7 linked regions of the Homo sapiens genome follow. The protein of the gene in region 3 interacts with the protein of the main gene of each other region in a biochemical or structural test. Each region holds a gene or a part of one and is shown on either strand. Other genes may lie near its edges.

The links.
Region 1: of the proteins of CDK1 (region 3) and CREB1, one has a biochemical effect on the other in vitro, tested with the Homo sapiens proteins (2 studies listed by BioGRID).
Region 2: of the proteins of CDK1 (region 3) and H1-0, one has a biochemical effect on the other in vitro, tested with the Homo sapiens proteins (3 studies listed by BioGRID).
Region 4: of the proteins of CDK1 (region 3) and HMGA1, one has a biochemical effect on the other in vitro, tested with the Homo sapiens proteins (3 studies listed by BioGRID and IntAct).
Region 5: of the proteins of CDK1 (region 3) and RPS3, one has a biochemical effect on the other in vitro, tested with the Homo sapiens proteins (2 studies listed by BioGRID, with this or other methods).
Region 6: of the proteins of CDK1 (region 3) and SP1, one has a biochemical effect on the other in vitro, tested with the Homo sapiens proteins (2 studies listed by BioGRID).
Region 7: of the proteins of CDK1 (region 3) and RUNX1, one has a biochemical effect on the other in vitro, tested with the Homo sapiens proteins (2 studies listed by BioGRID).

What each region holds. Positions count from the first base shown.
Region 1 is NC_000002.12:207,553,563-207,557,874, forward strand, and holds part of CREB1 (cyclic AMP-responsive element-binding protein 1), read left to right. Parts: intron 1-2,065; 5' UTR 2,066-2,073; coding exon 2,074-2,187; intron 2,188-4,312.
Region 2 is NC_000022.11:37,803,251-37,807,932, forward strand, and holds H1-0 (histone H1.0), read left to right. Parts: upstream 1-1,978; 5' UTR 1,979-2,294; coding exon 2,295-2,879; 3' UTR 2,880-4,182; downstream 4,183-4,682. UniProt on the Homo sapiens protein: Histones H1 are necessary for the condensation of nucleosome chains into higher-order structures. The histones H1.0 are found in cells that are in terminal stages of differentiation or that have low rates of cell division.
Region 3 is NC_000010.11:60,777,168-60,781,277, forward strand, and holds the start of CDK1 (cyclin-dependent kinase 1), read left to right. Parts: upstream 1-1,310; 5' UTR 1,311-1,403; exon of another isoform or gene 1,404-1,501; intron 1,502-2,973; 5' UTR 2,974-2,998; coding exon 2,999-3,035; intron 3,036-4,110. UniProt on the Homo sapiens protein: Plays a key role in the control of the eukaryotic cell cycle by modulating the centrosome cycle as well as mitotic onset; promotes G2-M transition via association with multiple interphase cyclins.
Region 4 is NC_000006.12:34,243,302-34,246,731, forward strand, and holds the end of HMGA1 (high mobility group protein HMG-I/HMG-Y), read left to right. Parts: intron 1-166; coding exon 167-217; intron 218-1,529; coding exon 1,530-1,583; 3' UTR 1,584-2,930; downstream 2,931-3,430. UniProt on the Homo sapiens protein: HMG-I/Y bind preferentially to the minor groove of A+T rich regions in double-stranded DNA. It is suggested that these proteins could function in nucleosome phasing and in the 3'-end processing of mRNA transcripts.
Region 5 is NC_000011.10:75,404,484-75,407,740, forward strand, and holds the end of RPS3 (small ribosomal subunit protein uS3), read left to right. Parts: exon of another isoform or gene 1-83; intron 84-188; coding exon 189-382; 3' UTR 383-385; intron 386-1,099; exon of another isoform or gene 1,100-1,130; 3' UTR 1,131-2,424; downstream 2,425-3,257. UniProt on the Homo sapiens protein: Component of the small ribosomal subunit. The ribosome is a large ribonucleoprotein complex responsible for the synthesis of proteins in the cell. Has endonuclease activity and plays a role in repair of damaged DNA.
Region 6 is NC_000012.12:53,403,754-53,408,065, forward strand, and holds part of SP1 (transcription factor Sp1), read left to right. Parts: intron 1-2,831; coding exon 2,832-3,000; intron 3,001-4,312. UniProt on the Homo sapiens protein: Transcription factor that can activate or repress transcription in response to physiological and pathological stimuli.
Region 7 is NC_000021.9:34,884,814-34,889,125, forward strand, and holds part of RUNX1 (runt-related transcription factor 1), read right to left. Parts: coding exon of another isoform or gene 3,993-4,312; exon of another isoform or gene 2,300-3,992; coding exon of another isoform or gene 2,284-2,299; coding exon 2,030-2,283; intron 240-2,029; exon of another isoform or gene 1-239.

The sequences.
Region 1 (4,312 bases), on a different chromosome or scaffold from region 3:
AAAATGTAAACAAAAATGGTAATTTCATATAAAAAAGTATCTGGTGTTTAAAAAACTTTGTATGCATCTCAAAATCATGATTAAAGTATAGTTTTGGCTTATTAAAGTGTTATATATGTCTTCTGATATTAAAATTTGTTTTAATTATCCAAGTAATCCTGAATCCATTCTCATGGGAAGAAAGATACTTAAGTCAATATTAAAATACTGAAATATGTGAAGAGTTAAAGGTGAAAGTCATTCTGTACAGTTCTACAAAATTCTGTTTCTCTGTTCAGAGCTACTGCTTATAGTTTAGTGTTTAATCTTGCACACCTTTTGCATGCATAAACCTTTACAACAATTTGTTTTACTTTTTTAAAAAAATAAATGGGGCTCTATTTTACAATGTGTCAATATATTAATTTTTTTTCATGGTTACAATTTTGTAATGGTTCTCTTAATGATGGATAATTGTTTTCAGGGGTTTTTTTGCTATGATTTAAAAAATTTTACAGTGAATACTGTTGAGCTACATCTCTGGATATTACTATCGATTATATGGTCAGTGCACTTGTGGCTTTATGAATATTTTAAATAATGTAGTCAAGTCTGTTGATCTTTTTCCTTGTCATCTGTGTTTTGTGGATTTTGGTATTTCCAAACTATATTCATTTCTACAGAGTTATTTTCATTTCCATTTTTTGAACTGTCACTTGTAAAACACTTTCTTTTTATAGAACCTTATGAGTGATAGCAAGATGTATTAGTATGTAATACATTGTGATGGAGTGTAATGATCACAAGGATCAGTGACAGTTTTGATGACCAATTTCAGAGTTATAAAATAAATGAAATATATTCTGGAAAAGTCATGGGCTTTTTGTGTTGTTTGTGGAATCACTAAAGGTAGTCCCTCACTATTAACAAATTTGTTTTGACACATAATATGTGAGGCACTGAATTATAATAGGCACTAGAAACATTGCCTATTTTCCTGAATCCTTTAGACAGGATTGCTTCCCCAGTTACCAGAGATTTCTCTAACCTTGATTTACAGTAGCTACTGCTGGTAGGAATTGCTCTCCACTCCACTTTTGCTGCCATCCAGTGTTACATTACCCTACAAATATACTAAGTGCTTAGCAAAGCAGAGTCCAAATGTAAGATCAATTTTTGTCTTACCCAGAATTTTACAATTAAAATATATAAATAAAAGATTTCTCTGTGTGTGGATGTATGTGTACAGTATAGTGTTGCATGCTATACATGGGGTGAGGTATCAGAATGCTTTTTCAGTGTTTGGCACCTCTAATTTGGCTCTGTGGCCATTTATTCCACCTTTCTACCTTGAAATTCCACAACTTGGGCTCTTGAAATTACCTGGTATGGTGCAATGCACGTGTATTCTCAGCTACTCCAGAGGCTGAGGCGGGAGGATCACTTGAGCCCAGGAGTTTGAGGTTGAGATTGAGATGAACTGTGAGAACATGCTACTGCACTCCAGTCTGGGCAACAGAGCAAGACCTCATCTCTAAAAAATTTTGGGCTTGAAACGGGCTGATTTTGTCCTACCACTAGTAATCACTTTTAGAAGTAGCTTACAATTGCTGTTTCTTCCTTCTTATGGGGGGAAATACCCTTATAGGAGGTATTATGAAGCCAATATCTAATAAACTCTGTCATCATTAGCTCACTTCCACTCTTCTGCCATCTCTCTGTACCTGATTAGTATAGTTTTGAAAAATTATAATTTTGCTACCACTGCACCTCTCCTTGTTAGTAGGGGAGATTTATGTAAGAGAAGAATCTTTTATTTCTAGACAAGGTAATATCCCATTGGGAAGAAACAGCCAAGGGAGAAGAAATGTTTTTTTCTTCTTTGAAGGGACTAGAACTTTTATAGCTCAGCAAATTTGAATAAGTTTGATGGTAATTCAGCTACATTATATTTTAGCTAGATTTCTGAGTTCATTTGGTAACCTAACCACCACATATATACCTATTTATAACTTGAAATTTGCCTTTAAAGTCACGAAAGCACAAAGCACTGTGGTGCTTGTAACACTCTTCCATATTATTATAGGTAACTAAATGACCATGGAATCTGGAGCCGAGAACCAGCAGAGTGGAGATGCAGCTGTAACAGAAGCTGAAAACCAACAAATGACAGTTCAAGCCCAGCCACAGATTGCCACATTAGCCCAGGTATAAAATACATGGAGAGATTCCAGTTTGTGTCTCTTCCTAGAGGAATACGTTTCCAAGAGAATTTAGTTGTTATTACATAGATATACATAGAATGAGCAGAGATACTCTTACAATATCAAAATTCCTATTTACTTAGTATTAGAGTATATTTAGAAATGATAGTATTAATTCAATAACAGTAAAATGTATTATTAAACAATAATACAGTATTTTTAGTGAAATGATCCAGAAATAATTACATTTTAAACTTATGGGTAAATGGTGCTCTCAGATAAGGGAAGAAAACCTTGGCTATGTATGACAACTGCTTTTTTTATTTTTTTAATATGACACAGATTTATTTTTTAACAGTGGGAATGCAGATAATATGAAAGCCTAAGTTTATATAACTAAACTAAAAATTAGGATAAGCAAATAAATTGACATGTAAGGAAATTTTAAGGATGATAGCAGTTTTTGTTTCCTGTATATTTTAAATATAATTTCTGATTCTTTCATTTCATCTTTCTCTTTAACATCCTATCTTTAAGAATATTTTCTCTCATTCTTATGTTTTTGTTTGCATGCATTCTCCTCAACTATTTTATTAACAGCTGTTTACATAGATAGGAATGAGAAAGGTGGTTAACTTAAAAAACAAATAGCAGATACAGACCTGCTAGGTAATAGTGTGATACCGTCTCTTTCAGATGAAGGTTCCCAGGAGAATATAATCCTAGCAGAAGCTCTGATATATGTAGCTTCAGTTTCTCCAAGAGTTTAAAAGTTCCTAGAGAAGTCACCTAGCAAGAATGAATCATGGGAAATAGAGGACTCACCACACTTGGGTGTCTGGCTGAGGTAGTGTGAGCCAGATACTGGATTTCCAGCAAGAATATAGTCAGAAGGAGTGAGCTGTTCTGTGTTTTCTCCTAAGACCACCAGGGTTTACCTCCAGCCTTCAGGAATAAGACAAAGCCAAATACATCTAATGTACTCATACGAGGCAGGCTGCAGGATTGAAGGGGAGAGAGCCAGGACTTCCATCAATATAGGGTCAACAGATAAGAATCTGGGCTCATCTGTATATTTTGCCCTTTAGAAAGAGGAAGACACAATGCTAGGCCGGGCGCTGTGGCTCACGCCTATAATCCAAACACTTTAGGAGGCTGAGGCGAGCGAATCACTTGAGGTCAGGAGTTCAAGACGAGCCTGGCCAACATGGTGAAACCCCATCTCTACTAAAAATACAAAAATTAACCAGGCGTGGTAGCACACACCTGTAAATCCAGCGACCTTAGAAGGCTGAGGGAGGAGAATTGCTTAAGTCCGGGAGGCAGAGGTTGCAGTGAACTGAGATTGCGCCACTGCATTCCAGCCGGGGTGACAGAACAAGATTCCCTCTCAAAAAAAAAAAGAAGATGCAATGCCAGCAGGCTTCTTTATGATGATAGCCCTTAACACATCTTATCTCTGGAGTCACACTATTTTGTCCAGTCTGGTTGTCCCCAGAGTAGGCTGTATTGTGTCATCCTGGGAATTCCTTTCTCCCTACTTCCATTTTCTCACAGTTTGTGTTTTTGATATGGTAAAGCATGTTTTTCAGTGGTTTTATGAGAAAGAAAGGTTGGCTGAGTAAAGATAGCATGTTATAAAAATTGAATGTATGGGCCGGGTGTGATGGCTCACACCTATAATCCCCACACTTTGGGAGGCCGAGGCAGGCGGATCACGAGGTTAGGAGATTGAGACCATCCTGGCTAACACAGTGAAGCCCGTCTCTACTAAAAATACAAAAAAATTAGCTGGGTGTGGTTATGGGCTCCTGTAGTCCCAGCTACTCGGGAGGCTGAGGCAGGAGAATGTCATGAACCCGAGACCGCACCACTGCACTCCAGCCTGGGTGACAGAGCGAGACTCCATCTCAAAAAGTAAATAAATACAAATAAAAATTGAATGTACATGTGCCTTAACATCTAGAAGATGTACAACAAAAATATTAAAAGTGATTAGCTATGGGTGATAGGAATATAAAGGGTTTTTATTTTATTTTTTATATCTGTATTTTATAAATTTATAATGAGAGGAGCCATTATATAAAATTATTAGTGTAGAAAAGGGATTATTCATTGAGTTAGCTAGG
Region 2 (4,682 bases), on a different chromosome or scaffold from region 3:
CTTAATGGGAACCCGAGTTGTCTTTGAAAATAACCAAAACAAAGCCACCAGAATGTTGTGTTTTCAAATGACGAAACTTAAGAGAAATTGACACCATCAAAAGACGAACCTTGACCTTTTGAACTAACCTGACCCCCCATTGCTTCCCTTCCCCGCCTGTGCCACGGAGATAAGCCCAGAGAGAAGGCATCTGACACCGAGTCTTGCGCTCCCCCTCCCCCTTCCTCCCCTAATCATTTGGATTAATCCATCCCTTGGCGTGCGGGGGAAACCCATTAATTTGTCCTGGCTTCAGAGACTCCCAGGTCCAGTAGGAGCCCTCCCACACCCACGCAGCTACGATCCCGTCCCCAACATCAAAACCCTCGAACCCCTCCCCTTTACCCCTCCCCAGTAGCCCACTGTGTCTGCAAACAGCTCTTGGACCATACCGGGATGCGTTCATCATTTTGACCAGCAACAAACTCCCACTCCCAGGGTATTGTTTAAGTGAACAGTGACCGGCCTCTATGCTTAGGGAATAAAAGCGGGGTTGTGGGAGAGGGGCCCAGGGAGCAAACGTCGCAGAATCTCAGCCCAGGGCCGCTGCCAAGCGGACCCGGCACGTGAGTAGGAGGTCGGCCGCAGACAAGGGGTCCTAGGGTCTCTGAGGTCTCTCCTGCTGGCCTCTGGGCCCCTAAAGCCCCTCGAGCTTCAGAACTCCCTACAGACAGTGGCGCCCCGTGTCCGCCTCGTCTACACCTGCCAAGCAGCACGGGAAAATCTGTGTGCATTTTAACAAAGACATCGCATCTTCCCAGCAAAATGGCGGTGGTCGCGGCCACGGCTCTCTAAACAACTCCACACTTTCCGAGGACAGGTCACAACCCAAGGGACATAACCCCCTCCTCGACCTCTACCCTAGCGCCCCGCTTTCCCAAGTCCCCAAAGCACTCAGGGCCTCTCCTCATTACAGGGGCCCCCCGGACCGTCCCTGGTTAGAGCTTCTGGGGCAGCTTCTCCATTGTGGACCGCCCTCCCCCGCCCCCACATTGCCTTCAAGGAGCCTTGGGACGGGGACTGAACCCCCAGGCTGGGCCTCACGGATGGGGGGCAGCGAGTTCTGTCTCTGACACCCCAAAACTTCCAGGCTAAGAGAAGCACACAAATGAATTCCCGATTAGGGTATATGGGAGATGTAGGGGTCTTTGAGGAGAAGAGGCCACCCGGGAGGCCCTCCTCATCTCTCAGAGGGTCCGGGCAGCACTGGGGGTTCGGCCTCAGGAGGGAACCTCAAGGCAGAGGTCGGGGGGCGCGCTGGGGGAGAGACGGCAGAGGAGGGGGAAGGGACAAAGTTTGAAAGTACCCTTCCAACTCTTTCAGGGAAAGTTTCCTTGGGGGCCCCATGGACAGAGGGGGTAGAGGTGTGGAGGGACCGGTGGCGGGGTGACCCCCGAGAGGTGACCGGACCCCGGGGGAGCGACCCCTCCCCCCTGTCCCGGCTCGGCCCGGCTGGGAGTCGCCCAGCTCGGGGCCGCGTGTGTTAGTTGGGGCCGCTTTCCGGCAGCTCCACCGGGCTAGGGGACCCCGCAGCGGGCCGGGAGCAGAGCCCCCGGTAGCCTCAGGGGAGAGCTTTGCTACGGGGGGTTTCCCGCACCGAGGCTCCCTAGCCCCGCAGAGCCAGCCCCCCGCAAAGGGGAAATGTGCCGGCACACCAGCGGTCCTCGGCGCCGTTTGGGGTGCGTGGCGGGCGCGGGGGGCGGCGGCCGGGCCAGCGGGCCGCCCGGCGGGGAAGCCCAGGGAGCCAGGCAGCGGCCCAGGGCGGCGGCGGGGAGCAGGAAGGCCCGGGCCGGGGGGAAAGGTCGGATTTGCTCGGCGGAAGAAACACAGATGGCGGCGGCGCAGCGCCATTCCGGGCCGGGAGCAGGCAGCCAGCAGCCCTGTCCTCACCGCGGTCCGCCCGCCGCCGCTAAATACCCGGATGCGCCGCCCAAGCGCCAGACGCGGAGCTGGGAAAAGGGAGGCAGAGGAGGCGGAGGCAGAGGCAGAGGCAGAGGCAGAGCCCGAGCCCGGTGCCGAGACCAAGCGACAGACCGGCGGGGCTGGGCCTCGCAAAGCCGGCTCGGCGAGCTCTCCCGACACCCGAGCCGGGGAGGAAAAGCAGCGACTCCTCGCTCGCATCCCCGGGAGCCGCACTCCAGACTGGCCCGGTAGTCAGGGGCTCAGGAGCAGATCCCGAGGCAGGCTTTGCTCAGCCTCCGACGAGGGCTGGCCCTTTGGAAGGCGCCTTCAACAGCCGGACCAGACAGGCCACCATGACCGAGAATTCCACGTCCGCCCCTGCGGCCAAGCCCAAGCGGGCCAAGGCCTCCAAGAAGTCCACAGACCACCCCAAGTATTCAGACATGATCGTGGCTGCCATCCAGGCCGAGAAGAACCGCGCTGGCTCCTCGCGCCAGTCCATTCAGAAGTATATCAAGAGCCACTACAAGGTGGGTGAGAACGCTGACTCGCAGATCAAGTTGTCCATCAAGCGCCTGGTCACCACCGGTGTCCTCAAGCAGACCAAAGGGGTGGGGGCCTCGGGGTCCTTCCGGCTAGCCAAGAGCGACGAACCCAAGAAGTCAGTGGCCTTCAAGAAGACCAAGAAGGAAATCAAGAAGGTAGCCACGCCAAAGAAGGCATCCAAGCCCAAGAAGGCTGCCTCCAAAGCCCCAACCAAGAAACCCAAAGCCACCCCGGTCAAGAAGGCCAAGAAGAAGCTGGCTGCCACGCCCAAGAAAGCCAAAAAACCCAAGACTGTCAAAGCCAAGCCGGTCAAGGCATCCAAGCCCAAAAAGGCCAAACCAGTGAAACCCAAAGCAAAGTCCAGTGCCAAGAGGGCCGGCAAGAAGAAGTGACAATGAAGTCTTTTCTTGCGGACACTCCCTCCTGTCTCCTATTTTCTGTAAATAATTTTCTCCTTTTTTCTCTCTTGATGCTCACCACCACCTTTTGCCCCCTTCTGTTCTGACTTTATAAGAGACAGGATTTGGATTCTTCAGAAATTACAGAATAATTCATTTTTCCTTAACCAGTTGTGCAAGGACAGCAACAACCAATCTAATGATGAGAATGTACTTATATTTTGTTTTGCTATTAACCTACTTACGGGGTTAGGGATTTGCGGGGGGGGCTTGTGTGTTTTGTTGGCTTGTTTGCCATGAAGGTAGATGTGGGTGGGGAGAAGACACAAGGCAGTTTGTTCTGGCTAGATGAGAGGGAACCCAGGAATTGTGAGGTTAGCAGGAATATCTTTAGGGTGAGTGAGTTTTCTTTGAGTTGGGCACCCGTTGTGAGAGTTTCAGAACCTTTGGCCAGCAGGAGAGAGGTGGTAGGGAGCAGCCAGCCGGCAAAGGAAGGAGGGGGAAAAAAACCGCCACCGGGCTGACTTCCACCTCCCAGTGGTGAGCAGTGGGGGCCCAAACCCAGTTTCCTTCTCATTTTTGTTAGTTTGCGCTTTCGGCCTCCCTATTTTCTTAGGGAAGGGGAGTGGGGTCCAAGTGACAGCTGGATGGGAGAAGCCATAGTTTCTCCCAGTCAGCTAGGATGTAGCCATTGGGGGATCTTTGTGGCTTCAGCAAATTCTCTTGTTAAACCGGAGTGAAAACTTCAGGGGAAGGGTGGGGAGTCAGCCAAGTGCCTCAGTGTGCCCTGTTGAAACTTAGGTTTTTCCACGCAATCGATGGATTGTGTCCTAGGAAGACTTTTCTTTTCCTCTGGATTTTTGTTCCTCCTGTACAAGAGGTGTCTTTGCTTGGTTTGGTGGGGCTGCGGCCACTTAAAACCTCCCGATCTCTTTTTGAGTCCTTTATTATAAGTAGTTGTAGCTGCGGGAGGGGGAGGGGGAGTGGGCGGGCAGTGGATAGTAAGACTTACTGCAGTCGATTTGGGATTTGCTAAGTAGTTTTACAGAGCTAGATCTGTGTGCATGTGTGTGTTTGTGTATATATACATATCTAGGGCTAGTACTTAGTTTCACACCCGGGAGCTGGGAGAAAAAACCTGTACAGTTGTCTTTCTCTTATTTTTAATAAAATAGAAAAATCGCGCACTTGCGCGTCCCCCCCCCACCCCCTTTTTTAAACAAGTGTTACTTGTGCCGGGAAAATTTTGCTGTCTTTGTAATTTTAAAACTTTAAAATAAATTGGAAAAGGGAGAAACTGAGCGGTGTATTTTTCCTCACTTTGAAGACTGGAGAATGAATGCGGAGCGGTTAGGCGGGCAGGCAGTGGGGACATCTGGGGCGTTTGCACCTGAGAATGGCGGGGGAGGGTTCAGGAGCTGGACAGAAGCCAGGAATCCTTAGTCCCGGAGGCTGCGGAACGTGCCTTAGCCGGCTTCTAGGCTTCTGCCTTTGGGGTCCAGAGGGTACCCCATTTCCGGCCGAGAGGTGAGTACGTGGGAATGCGGTGGGGAGTCTGGTGGGCTTGGCCCTGACGCGACTTCCTCCGCCCCCTTCCCTCCCCTCTGCCATCCGGACTTCGGCAGTCTCAACTTACAAGTCAAGCCTCTCGGTCCCTGGCGGATCCCGCCAGGCCCCGCCCACCCGTCCTAGGCCCGCCTCCCCGCCTTTTTAAGCGAGCCCCCCTAGCTCCGATTGGCTGCTGGAGCCCGGCCCCCGGCCACGCGACCAGGCTGCGTCCGCGATGCGCACGGCTCC
Region 3 (4,110 bases):
CCTGATTTGGGTCTTCTAATACATACTTGTAGTGGATGTGGTAATCAGTCTTTGTTCTATGTCCCATTAGGATCAATGCAACCAGAAATCCTTAAAATGGATTTTTATTATGTCTAGCTCTGTTTTACTGTTCTATTTGTTTATTTTAAAAAGATTTTAGAATGGTGTTTAGGTTGGGCTGGTGGCTCACGCCTGTAATCTCAGCACTTTGGGAGGCCAAGGCAGGAGGATTGCTGGAGCCTAGGAGTTGGAGACCAGCTAGGGCAACATAAGGAGACATTGTCTCCGCAAACAAACAGAAAAAAAAAAAGTAAGAAAGAAAGAGAGAAAGAAGGAAAGAACAAGAAAAAGGAAAAAAAAATTAACTGCAGTAAGTGCAGAAATCTCTCTCAAGGATATGATGGATGGCAATGAAGACAGAGTTTTTGACACTGGATTATTTAAAGCATAATTTAAGCCTCTTTCTCTCCCCTCATAGAATTGTGAATTTTTGTGTTTTAATTATATTTAAGCCAGGCGTGGTGGCGAGTGCCTGTAGTCGCAGCTGCGCTGGAGGCTGAGGCCGATTGCTTGAGCCCAGGATTTGGAGGCCAGCATGCGCAACATAATGAGACCCAGTCTCTAAATGCATGCCTCTCTCTATATATTTAAAATTCTGATGTGAAAATATTTTAAAATTTAATACATTTCAAATGTTTTTAATTGTATAATAAACAAAATGTAAATAATAAAATAATTTAATATTAAATTCAAAAATGAGGTAGAAACAAAGCACAGCGATATAAATAATAAATTTTCCTTTACATTTTTGAGGCGGTCTTTTGAGTTTTCCATTTCCTTCTTAAGGTCACTGAAATGTGCTCCTTGGAGCCAGCCCGCAAATCACGCATTTAGAAAAACATAACTATACACTCCTAACCCTAAGTATTAGAAGTGAAAGTAATGGAATCTCGATGTAAACACAATATCACTTTTTTGATGAGCTATTTTGAGTATAATAAATTTGAACTGTGCCAATGCTGGGAGAAAAAATTTAAAAGAAGAACGGAGCGAACAGTAGCTTCCTGCTCCGCTGACTAGAAACAGTAGGACGACACTCTCCCGACTGGAGGAGAGCGCTTGCGCTCGCACTCAGTTGGCGCCCGCCCTCCTGCTTTTTCTCTAGCCGCCCTTTCCTCTTTCTTTCGCGCTCTAGCCACCCGGGAAGGCCTGCCCAGCGTAGCTGGGCTCTGATTGGCTGCTTTGAAAGTCTACGGGCTACCCGATTGGTGAATCCGGGGCCCTTTAGCGCGGTGAGTTTGAAACTGCTCGCACTTGGCTTCAAAGCTGGCTCTTGGAAATTGAGCGGAGAGCGACGCGGTTGTTGTAGCTGCCGCTGCGGCCGCCGCGGAATAATAAGCCGGGTACAGTGGCTGGGGTCAGGGTCGTGTCTAGGGGACGGCCGAGGGCCTCGGAGGGCGAGTATTGAGGAACGGGGTCCTCTAAGAAGGCCGGACTGGAGGTCAGGGATCTGCGCGGGGCCCGGCTGGGCCTCGGGGGGCGGTGGGCAGGGCCTTCGCCTGGGTCTGGCCGTGTGAGCCACACTGGGCTGGCTTTAGAGGGAGGCTATGGGAGCCCAGCCTGGCGGGGTTAGGCGGCGTGGGGGTGGGGGTTCGGGGCTGCAGTCATGAGTCGAGGTCGGCTGTTCTCAGGAACTGCCTGAAGAGGCTTTCGGGTCTTGATTGAAGCAAAATCCGCTCCCCCACGCTGAGCGCCTGCGGAGTAGCAGGCTCTTTCCTGGGCCCGGCCCCTGCGCGCCCTGCCATCCCGCCTCGGGGGTGGGAAAGTGGGACCGCACCTGGGCCAGGTACAGGCGCGGGTCCCTAGAGCCAGGCCGCCCTGAGAAACCGATCCTGGAACTCGTGGGCCTTCTTGGGCTTGCTCTGCCCACGGCCCCGGCCCACCTGGAGCTGTTAAGAACAGTCAGCCCAGGCACTTAACTCTCATGAGCAGTGTAGTGCAGTTTTTTTCATTTAAAAAGATACATCTCTGCTTCTTTCTGGATTGATTTTTCTTTGAAGATGAATGTGAGAAATAGAACTTAAAGGTCTATTCTGAGTGTGCTTTATAAATGATTTTATCATCAGTGATGGGTGTTAGAAAAATCTAGGTAATTATGCCTGGAGTTCTGACGTTTCATTGGCAAACTTCAGAGGAAGTCTTGAACTTCTGGTTGTCAGCTTTTTTTTTTAACCCATTCATTGTGATTCAAGTATACCGTTTTTCTGCTTAGTCCTTGACATTGTTTAGGTTATAATTAGAATTTTATCTGTGGAATTGCACTTTTCATTCTTTTGTTTTACGGTGCTTAAGTGATATTTCCTACTCTTGGAAAAAGTACCTTGAAAGTCTTGAGCATGTTTGTCTGTGACCTCAGCAAGCAGAGGAAAAAGATTAAAATTGTCACGTGGGCAACTGTAAACACTTAAAATGTTTTTGTCGTTTTAAACAAAATTTTCCTAATGAACAGTCTGAACACATTTTAGTTCTGTCCTCATAACTTTAAAAAATAATGTTTTGAATAAAATTAGGAGTATCATAAAGCGGTATAAATTTGTTGAAATATTTGGGTATAACTTTGGCACACGCAGGTACTACTTTAAAGTGTCACAAAAAGGGAACATAATTCTGGTTTTTGTTTGGAAAGAATAGACAAGTTGATACCTGAATTTGAGGGTTATTTTGATTGGAAGAAGCTAAATACTACACTAGTATAGAATATACACGTTTCCAATGTCTCAGGAGTCAAGAAGGATGGAAAGTTATTGTAGGAGTCCTTACCCTTGTAAATATTGTTTGAATGTAATTAATATTTATGGAATACTTATGCTGCAGTAGGCACTGTGGAAAATGCTTTACATATAGTGTTTCATTAATGCTTAAAACTACTCGAGTTAGTGGCATGTAATTAAGTCAGTTTTTCCTTCACTTTAGGATCTACCATACCCATTGACTAACTATGGAAGATTATACCAAAATAGAGAAAATTGGAGAAGGTGAGTGGTTTTAGTAAAATAAATTTTATGGAATGATTTAACAATGCTACAACTTCTGTAATATGAACACATTTAAATATTTATTAAAATTCAACCATTAAGTTGTCTTGTAGTACCAGTGTGCATTAACATATGTTCTTTACTTAATAAACGCAAATTTGCTCACATTTCAAGAGAATTGAAATTACCGAATCCCTAATGACCGTTCGCCTCACCCCCATAGTCTTACAGTCTTCTGATACTAAACACTTATAGTAGTACTTGTATTTTGAAGACACTATTGATAACTTGCATGTGTGTTGAGGGGCAGAGGTTAGGGCTGCAGAATTATGCTAACTTCATAATATATTTTTAGTTTTAGTCTCTTTCAATTGTTTTTAGGATGATAAATATTTTTATCCAGACTTTATAGACTGGTTACAATAATTGACTTAATCTAATTTAAATAAAATTTCTATTTAGTTACCCTAAGTATAAATGACCTGTCATATAGACATGTTTAAGCTATTCTAAAATTATAACTTATGTATATAATCCTTCCCTTTCTGTGGTACTTGAAGGAATGTTTAGATCTATATATGGCACAAATGAGGGGTATATCCCTTCGCCTGTTCCTCGACTCCAGCAGAACATTCTCGATTCTCCAGGTACAAAATAATTTGCTAATAGAATCCAGTTTATATAGGTTCTGCCAGAAGAAAATTCCCAACTATATTTTTAATGTGATCAAAGACCCCACTTGACAAGAAATAGTGAAAAACAAGGGGGAATACTGGAGGGAATTTAGTGGAATAGGAGTGACAAGTTAGTGTGGTGTTCGATTGGAGGTGTGTGTGTGTATACATATATATATATATTTTTTTTTTAAATCACTTAAATACCTCATACCCATTCTACTAAACAAATTTTGCTGCTGAATTAAAAATATGTGATTAGTATGTCTAATGCTGTGTAGTGTGTTTCTTAAATTCCCAGAGAATTTGTGTTGGTTTTAGTTTGGCATAAAAAGAGACCTTCTTAAAGTATAAATATATTTTTCTTTAAGATGATAGAACTCCAAACATACAGGAGACTG
Region 4 (3,430 bases), on a different chromosome or scaffold from region 3:
AAATGTGGCTGGCCAGTCATTGCCAGCTGGACTTGGGTGGGCCTGTTGGGTGAGAGTGTTGGGTCACCCTGAACAGGCAGGTAGGTCTGCCCCCCATCACTATTGGGCATCGGGTGAGCACTGATGAGCATTTTGGACTTAGGAGATATTTTCTCTAACCCTCTAGAAAACCACCACAACTCCAGGAAGGAAACCAAGGGGCAGACCCAAAAAACTGGTAGGTGAAGAAGCAGACTGCTGCTTGCCTCCTGGGCTCTTTTGAGTTGAGGGTGTTGAGTACACAGTACCTGATGCTATGCACCCCCTATGGAAAGGCTCTCCTTGACCTGCTGGGACATCAGATTTTACAGAAGTCCAGAGAGGGGAAGGTACCTGGCCTGGGCTGTGCCCATGAGAAGTGAGGGGTCCCAGGTATAAATCAGACCACATCCCCCTGCCCTGCCCTGCCCTAGTTGTGTGTGGGGGTCCCTCCCTCTCCTGCTCCTAGAATACTCAGAACTTCTAGGGGAGATCTTGGAAGTCATCTAGCCTGTGTCCCCCTCAATTAGAGATGAGGAAAGGAAGCCATAGGGGGAAGGTTTGTCCTTCCTATGAGCCTCTGCAGAAGAGAAACAGCGAAGGAGCTGGGCCCTGGGAGGGGTCGGTGCTGGAGTTCTGATGTGACCCACCACACTGCACTGGAGGGCACCATCCAATTCTGGGTCCCCAAACAGCTGGTGGAAAGGCTCGGTGGGCTGAGTCAAGAAGCTGCCTCTAGGGGGCCACTGCAGTTAGGGTCACCCCAGCCTTCCAGCTCCTGGCCCTCTCCTACCCCCAGCCTGCCCCCTCAAATCCCTGAAGCTGTCATTCCTTGAGCTGAGCCACTGCTGGGGTGGGGGGGTTAGGGGGTGCTGCTGGCCAGGCCCCAAGAGTGAGTAACAGGAAACAAGTTGTTTTGGAGTTTGTGCCTGGCACGGGGGCTGTAGCCCCGTGTGGTGTCCCGACATTCCCGCCCAGTGAGTGAGCCCCGGCGGCACACACTTCCCCTTCCTCCCCACCCCGGCCTAGGGTCAGCCCTCGGCCACCCCGGAGGGCCAGGGCACCACAGCACAGCATCTGCCCCTGTGGGCCAAGGACCTGGTTCCCCTGCACCCACCAGCGGGCTCTTGCACCTTCCAGCCACCCCTTCCCATTTCCTCCCCCAGCCACCTCTTCCCCCACCTCCTCTTCTCCCCTAGGGAGTCAGTCACATCCTGAAGCTCATTGCTGCCCTGAGCTCTGCCCTCCTGCCCTCCCTGGGCCTGGGGGCCAAGGGGGCTTGGCTCCTGGCTCTGGGTGAGAGCAGCATGTGTGTGGGGTTTTTTCCTCCTTTTAAATTCTTTTTATGAATGAAGCCGGGCCGTGGAGGTTGCTGAGTCACCCACACACTCAGCCCTGACTCATCCCTCTTCAGGAGAGCCAGGGAGTGCAGGGAGCGGGTGGGGCCAGCCTCTGGGGGTGGAAGAGGGGGACCGGGCCAGAGCTCACACCAACAACTGCCCACCTCACAGGAGAAGGAGGAAGAGGAGGGCATCTCGCAGGAGTCCTCGGAGGAGGAGCAGTGACCCATGCGTGCCGCCTGCTCCTCACTGGAGGAGCAGCTTCCTTCTGGGACTGGACAGCTTTGCTCCGCTCCCACCGCCCCCACCCCTTCCCCAGGCCCACCATCACCACCGCCTCTGGCCGCCACCCCCATCTTCCACCTGTGCCCTCACCACCACACTACACAGCACACCAGCCGCTGCAGGGCTCCCATGGGCTGAGTGGGGAGCAGTTTTCCCCTGGCCTCAGTTCCCAGCTCCCCCCGCCCACCCACGCATACACACATGCCCTCCTGGACAAGGCTAACATCCCACTTAGCCGCACCCTGCACCTGCTGCGTCCCCACTCCCTTGGTGGTGGGGACATTGCTCTCTGGGCTTTTGGTTTGGGGGCGCCCTCTCTGCTCCTTCACTGTTCCCTCTGGCTTCCCATAGTGGGGCCTGGGAGGGTTCCCCTGGCCTTAAAAGGGGCCCAAGCCCCATCTCATCCTGGCACGCCCTACTCCACTGCCCTGGCAGCAGCAGGTGTGGCCAATGGAGGGGGGTGCTGGCCCCCAGGATTCCCCCAGCCAAACTGTCTTTGTCACCACGTGGGGCTCACTTTTCATCCTTCCCCAACTTCCCTAGTCCCCGTACTAGGTTGGACAGCCCCCTTCGGTTACAGGAAGGCAGGAGGGGTGAGTCCCCTACTCCCTCTTCACTGTGGCCACAGCCCCCTTGCCCTCCGCCTGGGATCTGAGTACATATTGTGGTGATGGAGATGCAGTCACTTATTGTCCAGGTGAGGCCCAAGAGCCCTGTGGCCGCCACCTGAGGTGGGCTGGGGCTGCTCCCCTAACCCTACTTTGCTTCCGCCACTCAGCCATTTCCCCCTCCTCAGATGGGGCACCAATAACAAGGAGCTCACCCTGCCCGCTCCCAACCCCCCTCCTGCTCCTCCCTGCCCCCCAAGGTTCTGGTTCCATTTTTCCTCTGTTCACAAACTACCTCTGGACAGTTGTGTTGTTTTTTGTTCAATGTTCCATTCTTCGACATCCGTCATTGCTGCTGCTACCAGCGCCAAATGTTCATCCTCATTGCCTCCTGTTCTGCCCACGATCCCCTCCCCCAAGATACTCTTTGTGGGGAAGAGGGGCTGGGGCATGGCAGGCTGGGTGACCGACTACCCCAGTCCCAGGGAAGGTGGGGCCCTGCCCCTAGGATGCTGCAGCAGAGTGAGCAAGGGGGCCCAAATCGACCATAAAGGGTGTAGGGGCCACCTCCTCCCCCTGTTCTGTTGGGGAGGGGTAGCCATGATTTGTCCCAGCCTGGGGCTCCCTCTCTGGTTTCCTATTTGCAGTTACTTGAATAAAAAAAATATCCTTTTCTGGACTGGAGTCTCCTGTGGTGTGTGCCCCTAAAGCCTGGGGCAGGTAGGATGGGTGACACTTGTGTTCTGGCCCCCATCCTTCAGGCTGCAGGAAGGGAGGGGAAATAGCACTGGAATCACCTCCGGGGAAGGTCATTTTAAGCCTCTTGATGAAATCAAAACCCCTAGCCACAAAACATTTTATTTACAAAATATATACTGAATACTATACATCTGGCCCCATCACCATGGAAACAACTCCAAAGCCTGCCTGGGGATTTGTGCCCAAGCCCAGCCCAGGAGGGCTAGAGAAAGCAAAGGTGTCTACCAGCCGCCCCCATCCCAGAAGGAAAGCCTCTTCCCATGAGTGCCTGTGGGTGGGCGGTGAGCTCAACACCCACAAAGGGCAGAAGGCCTGGGGGCAGTGAGGTGATGGTGAGGGCATGGGAAGCAGATGCTGCTGAGGGTGGGTGGAGGGAGAAATGGAGACCCAGCACCCAGCAGGGGGAGCCAGGTGACAGCA
Region 5 (3,257 bases), on a different chromosome or scaffold from region 3:
CATGTTCTGTGGTGCTGTGCACGAGTTCCTTTGGCAGAAGTGTCCTATTTATTGATCGATTTAGAGGCATTTGTCTGAGAAGGGTCCAGACCCAGGGGTGCTTGAGTAAACTGCTTGCTCTCTTTGGTCTTGTGTGATGGGGGCCTTTGAGACCCCAGCTGTGTGCTAACAACTGTGGTGTCCTCTAGGTGTGCTGGGCATCAAGGTGAAGATCATGCTGCCCTGGGACCCAACTGGTAAGATTGGCCCTAAGAAGCCCCTGCCTGACCACGTGAGCATTGTGGAACCCAAAGATGAGATACTGCCCACCACCCCCATCTCAGAACAGAAGGGTGGGAAGCCAGAGCCGCCTGCCATGCCCCAGCCAGTCCCCACAGCATAACAGGTATGTCTGCAAGGGCAGGGGCCTCTTGGGGCATAATAGGGTCCTTCCGAGTCTTTCTGTTAATACTTGTATCCCACATTCTGGTAAGCGTTTGGTGAATAAAAATTTCATTTATTTGCTTTATGTGGGAGAATACAAGTTGAAACCTGGGGTCTATTTAACCCTTGGTTCCAATGGGACAGGTGTTGCCTTTATTCTTTCCAGAAAGAAGTTCCTGCTTTTACTCGTGTATATGAAATAGTTTTCCCTTATCCTCCCTTATTTGCTCAAAATTTTTGGCTCAGTGCAACCTCTGCCTCCCATGTTCAAGCAATTCTCCTGTCTCAGCCTCCCGAGTAGCTGGGATTATAGGCACCTGCCACCAAGCCCAGCTAATTTTTGTGTTTTTAGTAGAGACGGGGTTTCACCTTGTTGGCCAGGCTGGTCTCAGACTCCTGACCTCAGGTGAGCCACTGTGCTTGGCTGCTCAAGATTTTCTAGGCACTTTTGCTATTCTGTCCTTTAGCAGCCCCTGTAAAACACTAACAAGCCTCCTGTGGTCAACACTTGGGGTTTTTTTGTTTATAGGTGTTGTCTCTCCAGGTGCCTTGTATTTTTTTTTTTTATATGAAAAAGGACAAACCCTTATGTATGCATTTTATTAATGTTGCTGCAAACCCTAAGTGGGAGTGTGTATCCATTTGGTAAATCAGGAACTTAATAACTCTGGTAAAGTTTCTTACTTTTGTGCTTTATTTGGTTTCAGGGTCTCCTTGGCAGCTGTATTCTGGAGTCTGGATGTTGCTCTCTAAAGACCTTTAATAAAATTTTGTACAAAGACACAAGGTCTGACTAGACTGTTCAGTATTCAGACTGAGGGGCATGTTGGCCTCTGGAGCATTACATATCTTCTTGGTTTTAACCATACTTGTGGTATTTGCAAGGGCCAGAACAGTAAGACCCAAGCAGAGCCAACCAGAGAAATAATATTTGTGTGATAGAGAAGGCTGATAGCAAGCAAGGCAGCACCTTGATTCGTTGTCCTGTAGTTCAGGATTGTAGGTTTAGAAGAGGGATATGTTTGAGTTTTTCCTATGCATAAGGCGATCCACGTTGCACATAGAAAGTGAATATAAATGGCCATTATATTTTGTGTCATGCTGTGCTCTAAGTGTTCTTTACATATGTACTCGTTAATCAACCTCTCTAAAGTGTAAAGGAAATTTGCTTGCACCACTGAAGGCACATAAGGCTCAGAAGTAAATTTGCCTAAGCAGTATAAAGCTATCATTAGAATCCACATTCCTAAGTTGTGTTCTCTTAGGGGATCATGGAACCAGTCATTGGTACTACAGGCTATTATGTTCTGGAGAACTGTGAAGAACATTTAAATTGTCTCTGATTTTATCTATCAATGTTTTGAAGTATTTTCTACCAGTGTCTGTACTTCACAAGAAATTCGGCACTATTTTTTCAGGCAAAACTAGTGAGGGACAGGTTGGCTTGAAAATCATGAGACTGTTGTTAAATCAGATGCTGGTTGATCACAGAGGGGACTTCCAGGGAAAGCTGTTATCAGGTGGCTGCTTCCTGGTGATGCAGCCTGGCTGATGAGATAACCCTGGCTCCACAGATGGCTTAGCAGGTGCTGTGATGATTTGGTTTTCTTCTCAATTAGACTGAGCTGCACATGGTGTTTATATTGCTTGGCACATGGTAAGGGCTTAATATTTGAGGTAATTATGTAGGGCGTACACTGACAAGTATCTGACCCCCCCTTCCTTTTTGACTCATAAATTGGTCATCTTAACCATTTAAGTGTACACTTCTATAGTGACAGAGTTAGCCCTCTGTCCAAGGGATTTGCATCTGTGGATTCAACCAACTTTGGGTCAAAAATAATCAAAAAGGATGGTTGTGTGTGTATTGAACATGTAGACTTATTTTTCTTATTTTCAAAATACTATATTTTCTTGTCACTTATTTTCTTGTACACTGCAGTTGTAACAGCTATGTAGCATGTACATTAGGTATTAAAAGTAATCCAGTGAAGATTGAAAGTCTAAGGATGTGCCTAGGTTATCTTAGGTATAAATACTCTACCATTTTGTATAAGGAGTTTAAGCATCTGGGGATTTTGGTATTTGAAGGGGGTCATGGAACCAATCATTGGTACTGCAGGAAGACTGCTCTATATTCTCATTGTGCATCAATCTCCAGAACTTCATCTTGCAGATGTGCTGCCCCTCCCTCACCTTTTTGAAAGAGCCTTTGATGATTATATGGATTCCTGTCTTTTTTATTTTTTGAGGTGGAGTTTTGCTCTTGTGTGCCAGGCTGGAATGCAGTGGTGCTATATCGGCTTACTGCAACCTCCGCCTCCTGGGTTCAAGCCATTCTCCAGCCTCAGCCTCCCGCTAGCTGGGATTACAGGCACCCGCCACCATGCCCAGCTAATTTTTGTATTTTTAGTAGAGACCGGGTTTCCCCATGTTGGCCAGGCTGGTCTCAAACTCTTGACTTCAAGTGATCCCCCCACCTCGGCCTTCCAGAGTGCTGGAATTACAGGCGTGAGCCACCGCACCCAGCCAGTTGAACTTACTTGAACATCCGCAAATTATTTTTTATTATTTTTATTTTTTGAGACGGAGTCTCGCTCTGTCACCCAGGCTGGAGTGCAGTGGCGCGATCTCTGCTCACTGCAAGCCCCGCCTCCCTGGTTCACACCATCCTACCTCAGCCTCCCGAGTAGCTGGGACTACAGGCGCCCGCCACCAAGTCTGGCTATTTTTTTTTGTATTTTTAGTAGAGACGGGGTTTCACCGTGTTAGCCAGGATGGTCTCGATCTGACCTCGTGATCCGCCTGCCTCGGCCCCTCAAAGTGCTGGGATT
Region 6 (4,312 bases), on a different chromosome or scaffold from region 3:
GCTAGGCAGCAGTAGCTAATGTCTATAATCACAACAGAACATTTTGGGGGGCTGAGGCGGGAGGATCACTTGAGCCCAGGAGCTCGAGATCAGCCTGGACAACATGGTGAGACCCGGTCTCCTTAAAAAAAGGAAAGGCCGGGCACGGTGGCTCACGCCTGTAATCCCAGCACTTTGGGAGGCCGAGGCGGGCGGATCATGAGGTCAGGAGACCAAGACCATCCTGGCTAACACAGTGAAACCCCGTCTCTACTAAAAATACAAAAAGTTAGCCGGGCGTGGTGACGGGCGCCTGTAGTCCCACCTACTAGGGAGGCTGAGGCAGGAGAATGGCGTGAACCTGGGAGGCGGAGCTTGCAGTGAGCCGAGATCGCGCTACTGCACTTCAGCCTGGGCGACAGAGCGAGACTCCGTCTCAAAAAAAAAAAAAGGAAAGAAGTCTTGAGAAGAATATTATCTGCCACTTTATAAGATATTACTTTTGCGAAGAATATTATCAGCCGGGTGCGGTGACTCACGCCTGTAATCAGCACTTTGGGAGGCCAAGGCGGGCGGATCACAAGGTCAGGAGTTCGAGACCAGCCTGTCGAAGATGGTGAAACCCCATCTCTACTAAAAAAATACAACAAAATACAAAAAGTAGCCAGGGGTGGTGGTGGGTGCCTGTAATCCCAGCTACTCAGGAGGCTGAGGCAGGAAAATCGCTTGAACCCAGGAGGCGGAGGTTGCAATGAGTCAAGATTGTGCCATTGCACTCCAGCCTGGGCAACAAGAGTGTAACTCAGTCTCAAAAAAAAAAAAAAAAGAATATTATCTGTCACTTTTTACCAGTGGCCTAGAGCTGTGTTTGAAAATGTCAAATGTGACCAACTGAGTCATGATGAGAGTCTAAAGCATTTTAGCATACACTGTTTATTTATATATATTTTTTTGAGTTGGAATCTTGTTCTGTTGGCCAGGCTGGTGTGCAGTGATGTGATCATAGCTCACTGTAGCCTTAAACACCTTGGCTCAAGCAATCTTCCTCCCACCTTAGCCTCCTGAGTAGCTGGGACCATAGGCGCATGCCACCATGCCCAGCTAATTATTATTATTATTTGGCGACGAAGTCTCGCTCTGTCGGCCAGGCTGGAGTGCAGTGGCACAGTCTCGGCTCACTGCAACCTCTGCCTCCTGGGTTCAAGCAATTCCTGTCTCAGCCTCCCGAATAGCTAGGATTACAAGCGTACTCCACCATACCCAGCTGATTTTTTTTGTTTTGTTTTTGTATTTTTAGTAGAGATGGGGGTTTTACCATGTTGGCCAGGCTGGTATTGAACTCCTGACCTCAAGTGATCCAACCACCTCGGCCTCCCAAAGTGCTGGGATTACAGGCGTGAGCTACCATGCCCAGCCTATTATTTATTTTATAGACAGAGTGTCCCTATGTTGCCCAGGCTGGTCTTGAACTCCTAATCTCAAGCAGTTCTCCTGCCTCAGCCTTCCAAAGTGCTGAGGTTACAGGCAGAACCACATGTAAATATATGGGCATTGCTGGTTCAAATTAGATGTACATTTAAATATTTTCAAACTGGCCTTCAAAAAGTTGTATTAATTTATCACTATTTGTGTATGAAAATGTCTCTTTCCGGCTGGACATGGTGGCTCATGCCCACCCGTAATCCCAGCACTTTCGAAGGCCGAGGCGGGTGGATCACCTAAGGTCAGGAGTTCGAGACAGCCTGACCAACATGGTGAAACCCCATCTCTCCTAAAAATACAAAAAAGTTAGCCAGTCATGGTGGCATATACCTGTAGTTGCAGCTACTTGGGAGGCTAAGGCAGGAGAATCACTTGAACCCAGGAGATGGAGGTTGCAGTGAGCCCAGATAATGCCACTGTACTCCAGAGCCAGCGAGACTCTGTCTCAAAAAAAGAAAGGAAAGAAAAGAGAGAGAGAGAGAAGGAAGGAGGGAAGGAGGGAGGGAGGGAAGGAAGAGAGAGAGGGAGGGTCTGTTTTCCTGTACCCTTACCAATGCCGTATGTTATTAGGGTTTCAACTTTTGGTAATCTGATAGGTGAAAAATTACAAATGCGTTATAAGTGGAGTTGCATTTTAAAAACTATGATCGGGGGAGGGATAGCATTAGGAGATATACCTAATGCTAAATGACGAGTTAATGGGTGCAGCACATCAGTATGGCACATGTATACATATGTAACCTACACGTTGTGCACATGTACCGTAAAACTTAAAGTATAATAATAAAAAAAAACAACTATGAGATTTGATCAGATTTTTACGTATTTATTGGCTCTTGGTATTTTCTTTCTTTTTTTTTTTTTTTTTTTTTTTTGAGACAGAGTCTTGCTCTGTCACCCAGGCTGGAGTACAATGGTGCAGTCTCGCTAACTGCAACCTCCGCCTCCCGGGTTCAAGCAATTCTCCTGGCTCAGCCTTCCAAGGAGCTGGGATTACAGGCATGCGTACCATTCCCAGCTAATTTTGTATTTTTAGTAGAGACGGGATTTCTCCGTATTGGTCAGACTGGTCTTGAACTCCTGACCTCAGGTGATCCGCCCACCTCGGCCTCCCAAAGTGATGGAATTACAGGCGTGAACCACTGCGCCCAGCCACTCTTGGTATTTTCAATGATGATTCTTGAGATTTCAGTGAGTCTTCAGGTGTCAGTGAATGGAATGGCTAAACATAAAAAGGCTTCAAAACTTGTGATACTGTGAATGTAGGATGTCAGTTCAAAAGAAATGATGTTGTGACTGTAGGGTATCACTGAGATGCCAGTGATAACCTGCCCATGTCACATGTTGACCCTTTTCTCTCTTAATTTCAGGTGATCATGGAGCTCAGCTTGGTCTCCATGGGGCTGGTGGTGATGGAATACATGATGACACAGCAGGTGGAGAGGAAGGAGAAAACAGCCCAGATGCCCAACCCCAAGCCGGTCGGAGGACCCGGCGGGAAGCATGCACCTGCCCCTACTGTAAAGACAGTGAAGGAAGGTGAGTTGACCCAGCCAGTTTCTTACAAATATAAAGAAAAATTAATAGATTTGGAGATAAGAGGAAGAAGATTAATTTTTTTTTTTTTTGAGACCGAGTCTGACTCTGTTGCCCAGGCTGGAGTGCAGTGGCGCAATCTTGGCTCACTGCAAACTCCACCTCCTGGGTTCACGCCATTCTCCTGCCTCAGCCTCCCGAGTAGCTGGGACTACAGGCACCTGTCACCACACCCAGCTATCTTTTTTTATTTTTAGTAGAGACAGGGTTTCACTGTGTTACCCAGGATGGTCTCGATCTCCTGACCTCGTGATCTGCCCGCCTCGGCCTCCTAAAGTGCTGGGATTACCAGCGTGAGCCACCATGCCCGGCAAAGGTTAATTTTTTTTTTTAGGATTTAAGACTCAGAGCTGGATGCATATAATCCCAGCACTTTGGGAGGCCAAGATAGGAGGATCACTTCAGCCCAGGAGTTTGAGACCAGCCTCAGCAAGAAAGCGAGAGCCGATCTCTACAAAAATTTAAAAATTATGTGGGAATATTTTACTGGCCATAAAAAGAGAAAATGAAAAAAAAAAAAATTTTTTTTTTTTCTGAGACAAAGTCAGTCTGTGTTTCCCAGGCTGGAGTGCAGTGGCACATTCTTGGCTCACTGCAACCTCCACCTCCTGGGTTCAAGCAATTCTGCCTCAGTCTCCCGAGTAGCTGGGACTACAGGCGTGTGCCACCACGCCCGGCTAAGTTTTTCTATTTTTAATAGAGACAGGGTTTCACCTTGTTAGCCAGGATGGTCTTCATCTCCTGACTGTGTGATCTGCCCACCTCGGCCTCCCAAAGTGCTGGGATTACAGACGTGAGCCACTGCACCTGGCCAAAAAAATTTATTTATTTATTTTTTTGTTTTGAGATGGAGTCTTGCTCTGTTGCCCAGGCTGGAGTGCAGTGGCACAATCTTGGCTCACTGCAGGCTCCGCCCCCTGGGTTCACGCCATTCTCCTGCCTCAGCCTCCCTAGTAGCTGGGACTACAGGTGCCCGCCACCTCGCCCAGCTAATTTTTTGTATTTTTAGTAGAGACGGGGTTTCACCGTGTTAGCCAGGGTGGTCTCGATCTCCTGACCTTGTGATCCGCCTGCCTTGGCCTCCCAAAGTGCTGGGATTACAGGCATGAGCCATGGGGGCGCCCGGCCTTTTTTTTTTTTTAAGACAGATCTTCATCCGGGTACGGTGGCTCACGCCTGTAATCCCAGCACTTTGGGAGGCCAAGGCGGGCGGATCACCTGAGGTCAGGAGTACAAGACCAGCCTGGCCAACATG
Region 7 (4,312 bases), on a different chromosome or scaffold from region 3:
TCAGGGGATCTGCTTGAACTTTTTTCAAGAGCTCTGTATTTGGATTTTTAGTAGCCTATAGATTATCACTCAATAAAACAAATTAATTGTTTTTAAGTGAATTGCCAAAAGTCATTTTAAAAAGGAAACTCTATGGTTATTATGGTTTCTGCTAGAAAGAATTCTGACAGCTCATAAAAGCAATATGTATAATTTTTCATTTTTTAGAAGAAAATAAATACTTTCATGTAATGGCTTGAGACTCTGAATTGCTCCAATTCCTGAAGATTATTTATTAATCATTTAGTCTTTTAATATATTTGAGTGTGGGTTCCCTGGCAGAGGAGGGAGTTCAGAAGAGACCCTGATTTCCCCCCCAAAAGGAAGCCACAAATCTCTTAGAGCCCTAGTGCATTGGGGCAGCCAGGTTTTAATGGCCTTTGGTGGTTATCAGCCCGTCTTGCCTCTGCTCTTTATCTGATAGTGACCCCATGGCCCAACCCTGTTGGGTCCCCTCTCAATGCGGGTGCCCTAAAGAGTCATCGCTGAGTCCATTTAGGCAAAGGGTTAGAATGATTTAAAAGTAAAATGGTCTCCCAAACCCAAATCTAAGTAAACGGAGGGAGGGAAAAAAGAGTCAAGCAAGCCACCACGTTCCTTCGTTCCTTCTCCTCATTTCCACCCCCACTAAAAAACAAAACAAACAAAAAAAACTGCTTTTAGAAAAGTGAGTGGAAAAAGAGGCCAATCTATAGACACAGCCAACTGCAAATTTCGTTTTGTTTTAGAAATCACAATCTAAGTGTGGAAACTGTATAAAGCTTAAAAATAACCGCAACAATACTTTTTTAAAAAGTGAATATTCGTCGTTGTAATAAGATCAAGACCCAGCTGAGGCTTGGAACTATAAAAAGCTTATATTAAATTAATCTCCCTTTAAAGGGGACAATTATTTAAACTTTTTTTTTAGTAGCTTATCTTTACACTTGGAACCACCTGCCTTGATTCGCCCTTTAAACGAACAGGAAATGACCCGCACTGATTTTACTTAGTCGCATCTTTTCAAACCCACCAAAGACAAAACAGAATCTCCACTGCAGAAATTAAATTCCTACTGCTTGCTGCTAGTGTAGTAGGGTGATTGTTTAGAAACGCCTGGGGTTGTTTTCATACCCCTGTTGAAGGTCAAGGTTTTTAAAGGCAGCTCAAAGCTTTGGGGATGATCAGGGGTGAAAAGTGAAGGGAGATCTTTGGAGCCGCCGCGCTGAAGTCTCCGGCTACGCGCCGCCCCCTCCTCTAGCAGGAAAGCGGGCCGCTGGGACCCCTGGCTCTCCGAAAACAGCCTCGTCACCTTTCGCTACCCCTGGCTTAATCTAGGTGAGCTGATGATAGCATTCAGAACGGTTCCGGGAAAAGAAACAGGATTCGATACTTGCGGCTTCTGGCAGGAGCAGGCTAAAAAGCTCAGAGAACTCTTCAGAAAACTTTTGCAAACTTAACTACGCCCGCTGTGGACTTTGGACATGCTAATTCCTATAGGGCGGTTAGAGAAGGGGAAAAAAAATCCCTGACAGTTTCCCTAGTTAGTTTCTTTTCACTGACTTGAAGGCAGAAAAGTCTTACTATTTTATTTCCTGATCCTTTCATCTGAGGAAGACAAAATGGTTTGGGTGTTAATCCAGCGGTAGGGGCAGCAGTAAGTTAGCAGACGGGCTGTCTCTGCCGGGCTGGGTTATAACTTTTCCTACTTTGTATCAAAGCTAAGGCCCCTGCCAGGGAGGTCCCGACCGGCTCCCAGTGGATATCTTTGGGGACACCCTGATGTTTTCAGCCCTCCTGGGAGGCCGCCCCAGAAAGCTGAGACGAGTGCCTCCCGAGGGTCGCCACGGCAACACAGCATCCCCCACATCCCAAGCTAGGAAGACCGACCCGGGGCTGCGGGGGCCCCTTTCCAGAATCCGGCCCCGCCCGCCTGGCCGCTGCCCTCGCGGATCTCCCCCGGCCTCGCCGGCCTCCGCCTGTCCTCCCACCACCCTCTCCGGGCCAGTACCTTGAAAGCGATGGGCAGGGTCTTGTTGCAGCGCCAGTGCGTAGGCAGCACGGAGCAGAGGAAGTTGGGGCTGTCGGTGCGCACCAGCTCGCCCGGGTGGTCGGCCAGCACCTCCACCATGCTGCGGTCGCCGCTCCTCAGCTTGCCGGCCAGGGCAGCGCCGGCGTCCGGGGCGCCCAGCGGCAACGCCTCGCTCATCTTGCCTGGGCTCAGCGCGGTGGAAGGCGGCGTGAAGCGGCGGCTCGTGCTGGCATCTACGGGGATACGCATCACAACAAGCCGATTGAGTTAGGACCCTGCAAACAGCTCCTACCAGACGGCGACAGGGGCGCGGATCTTCAGCAAGCAGCTCCCGGGAGACCAACATACACGTTCAGGGGCCTTTATTACTGCGGGGGGTGGGGGGGGGCGGGGGTGGTTAGGGGAGGAGGGAGACTAAGTTACTAACAGTCCAGGAGGGGAAAACGTTCTGGTTCTGCGGATCGGCCTCTGACCCAGGATGGGCTCCTAGCAACCGATTGCTTAGTGCATTAAAAAGTGGAGACTATCTTCCACGAATCTTGCTTGCAGAGGTTAAGTTCTGTCTTTGGCTGTTAGAAAAGTTCCTGAAGGCAAAATTCTCATACACTTCCTAAAATATTTATGCGAAGAGTAAAACGATCAGCAAACACATTATTTGGAAGTTCCAGTAGTTAATGCCTGTCAGTTTTTTGCAGGTGAGTTTTGTCTAAAGTCCCAACAGAACACAATTATCTCCCGTAACAAGGCCACTTTTATCATGCAAAACTGGCTTCAGTCCCGAAAAGCAAGAGCTGAGACTTCCAAAGGTAGTGCTACTAATGTATGTGCACGTATATATAAATATATACATATGCTCTACTTCATAAAATATTTACAATACAATCTGTGGAGAATTTAAACACAACAGAAATCCATTAATGTACGCTGCAGATTTTTTTAAGTAGCCTTGAAAATCAGCTTCAGTAGTTGGAGCAGTGCTGAGCTAGAAGTACTTGTCATGTTCTCTGTTCTCTCAATGAATTCTGTCAAAACGCTCAGTGCAGAAAATTCAGCGTTTCAGAGATCTTCAGCTAATCTTAAAACAACAATCATAAGAAGGCCCAGTCGATGACACTCAGGGTTCTACAGCTCTCCCACATCTGTGAACTCGGGTTTGGGGATGTTGGTTAAGTTTGTGGCTGGTCCTCTGGTTTGTTGGGAGTTGAGCAGCCGCAGAGTCACACACATGCAAACACGCACTCTTCGGAAGGCAGCCACTGTCTACATCAGCTGGGTGACTCAGCCCTGACTCGGGCAGCAGCGAGACGATACTCCTCCACCGTCGCCCAGCACCCGCCGGTTAGCTGCTCCGAGGCACGAACACCCACGAGCGCCGCGTAACCGCAGCAGGTGGAGCGGGCCTTGAGGGAGGGCTCCGCGGCGCAGATCGAAACAGATCGGGCGGCTCGGGTTACACACGCACGCACATCCTGCCACGCACACTGCCACGCACACGCAACTTCACGGCTCGCCTCGGACCACAGAGCACTTTCTCCCCCTGTTGTAAAAGGAAAACAATTGGGGAAAAGTTCGCAGCCAGGAAAGAAGTTGAAAACATCCAGCCAAGAAGCCAGTTAATTCAAAAGGAAGAAAGGGGAAAAACAAAAAAAAACAACAAAAAAAGGAAGGTCCAACGCAGGCCAAGGAGAAGCAGCAGAGGTTGACTTCCTTCTGGCGTCCCTAGGAGCCCCGGAAAGAAGTGCCTGGCGGCGCAGGGCCGGGCAGCGTGGTGCCCTGGCTGGGTCCGGCCGCGGGGCGCCCGTCCCGCCCGCGCCCGCTGGCTCTATGAATGAGAGTGCCTGGAAATGAACGTGCTTTTACTGTAAGCCCGGCCGGAGGAATTCCATTCCCTCAGCTCGTTTGCATAGGGGCGGCCGGCGGCCAATCACAGGCCTTTCCGGTATCAGCCAGGGCGCGGCTCGCCGCCGCCGGCTCCTGGAATTGGCCCGCGCGCCCCCGCCGCCGCGCCGCGCGCTACTGTACGCAGCCCGGGCGGGGAGTCGGAGGCCACCCCCGCGCCCCGCATCCAAGCCTGCATGCTGGCCCGGGGCCCCGCCCGCGTGCGGACCCCTTTCCGCAGCCACACGCAGGCTTGTGCGGCTCCGCGAGTGGCCACGGTCCGGAGACCTGGAAAAAGAAAGCAGGCCCCGCCGGCCCGAGGAGGACCCGGCCGGCGCGCCGCACCCGGAGAGGCCCGGCCCCGCGAGCCGCTGCAGGCAGGCG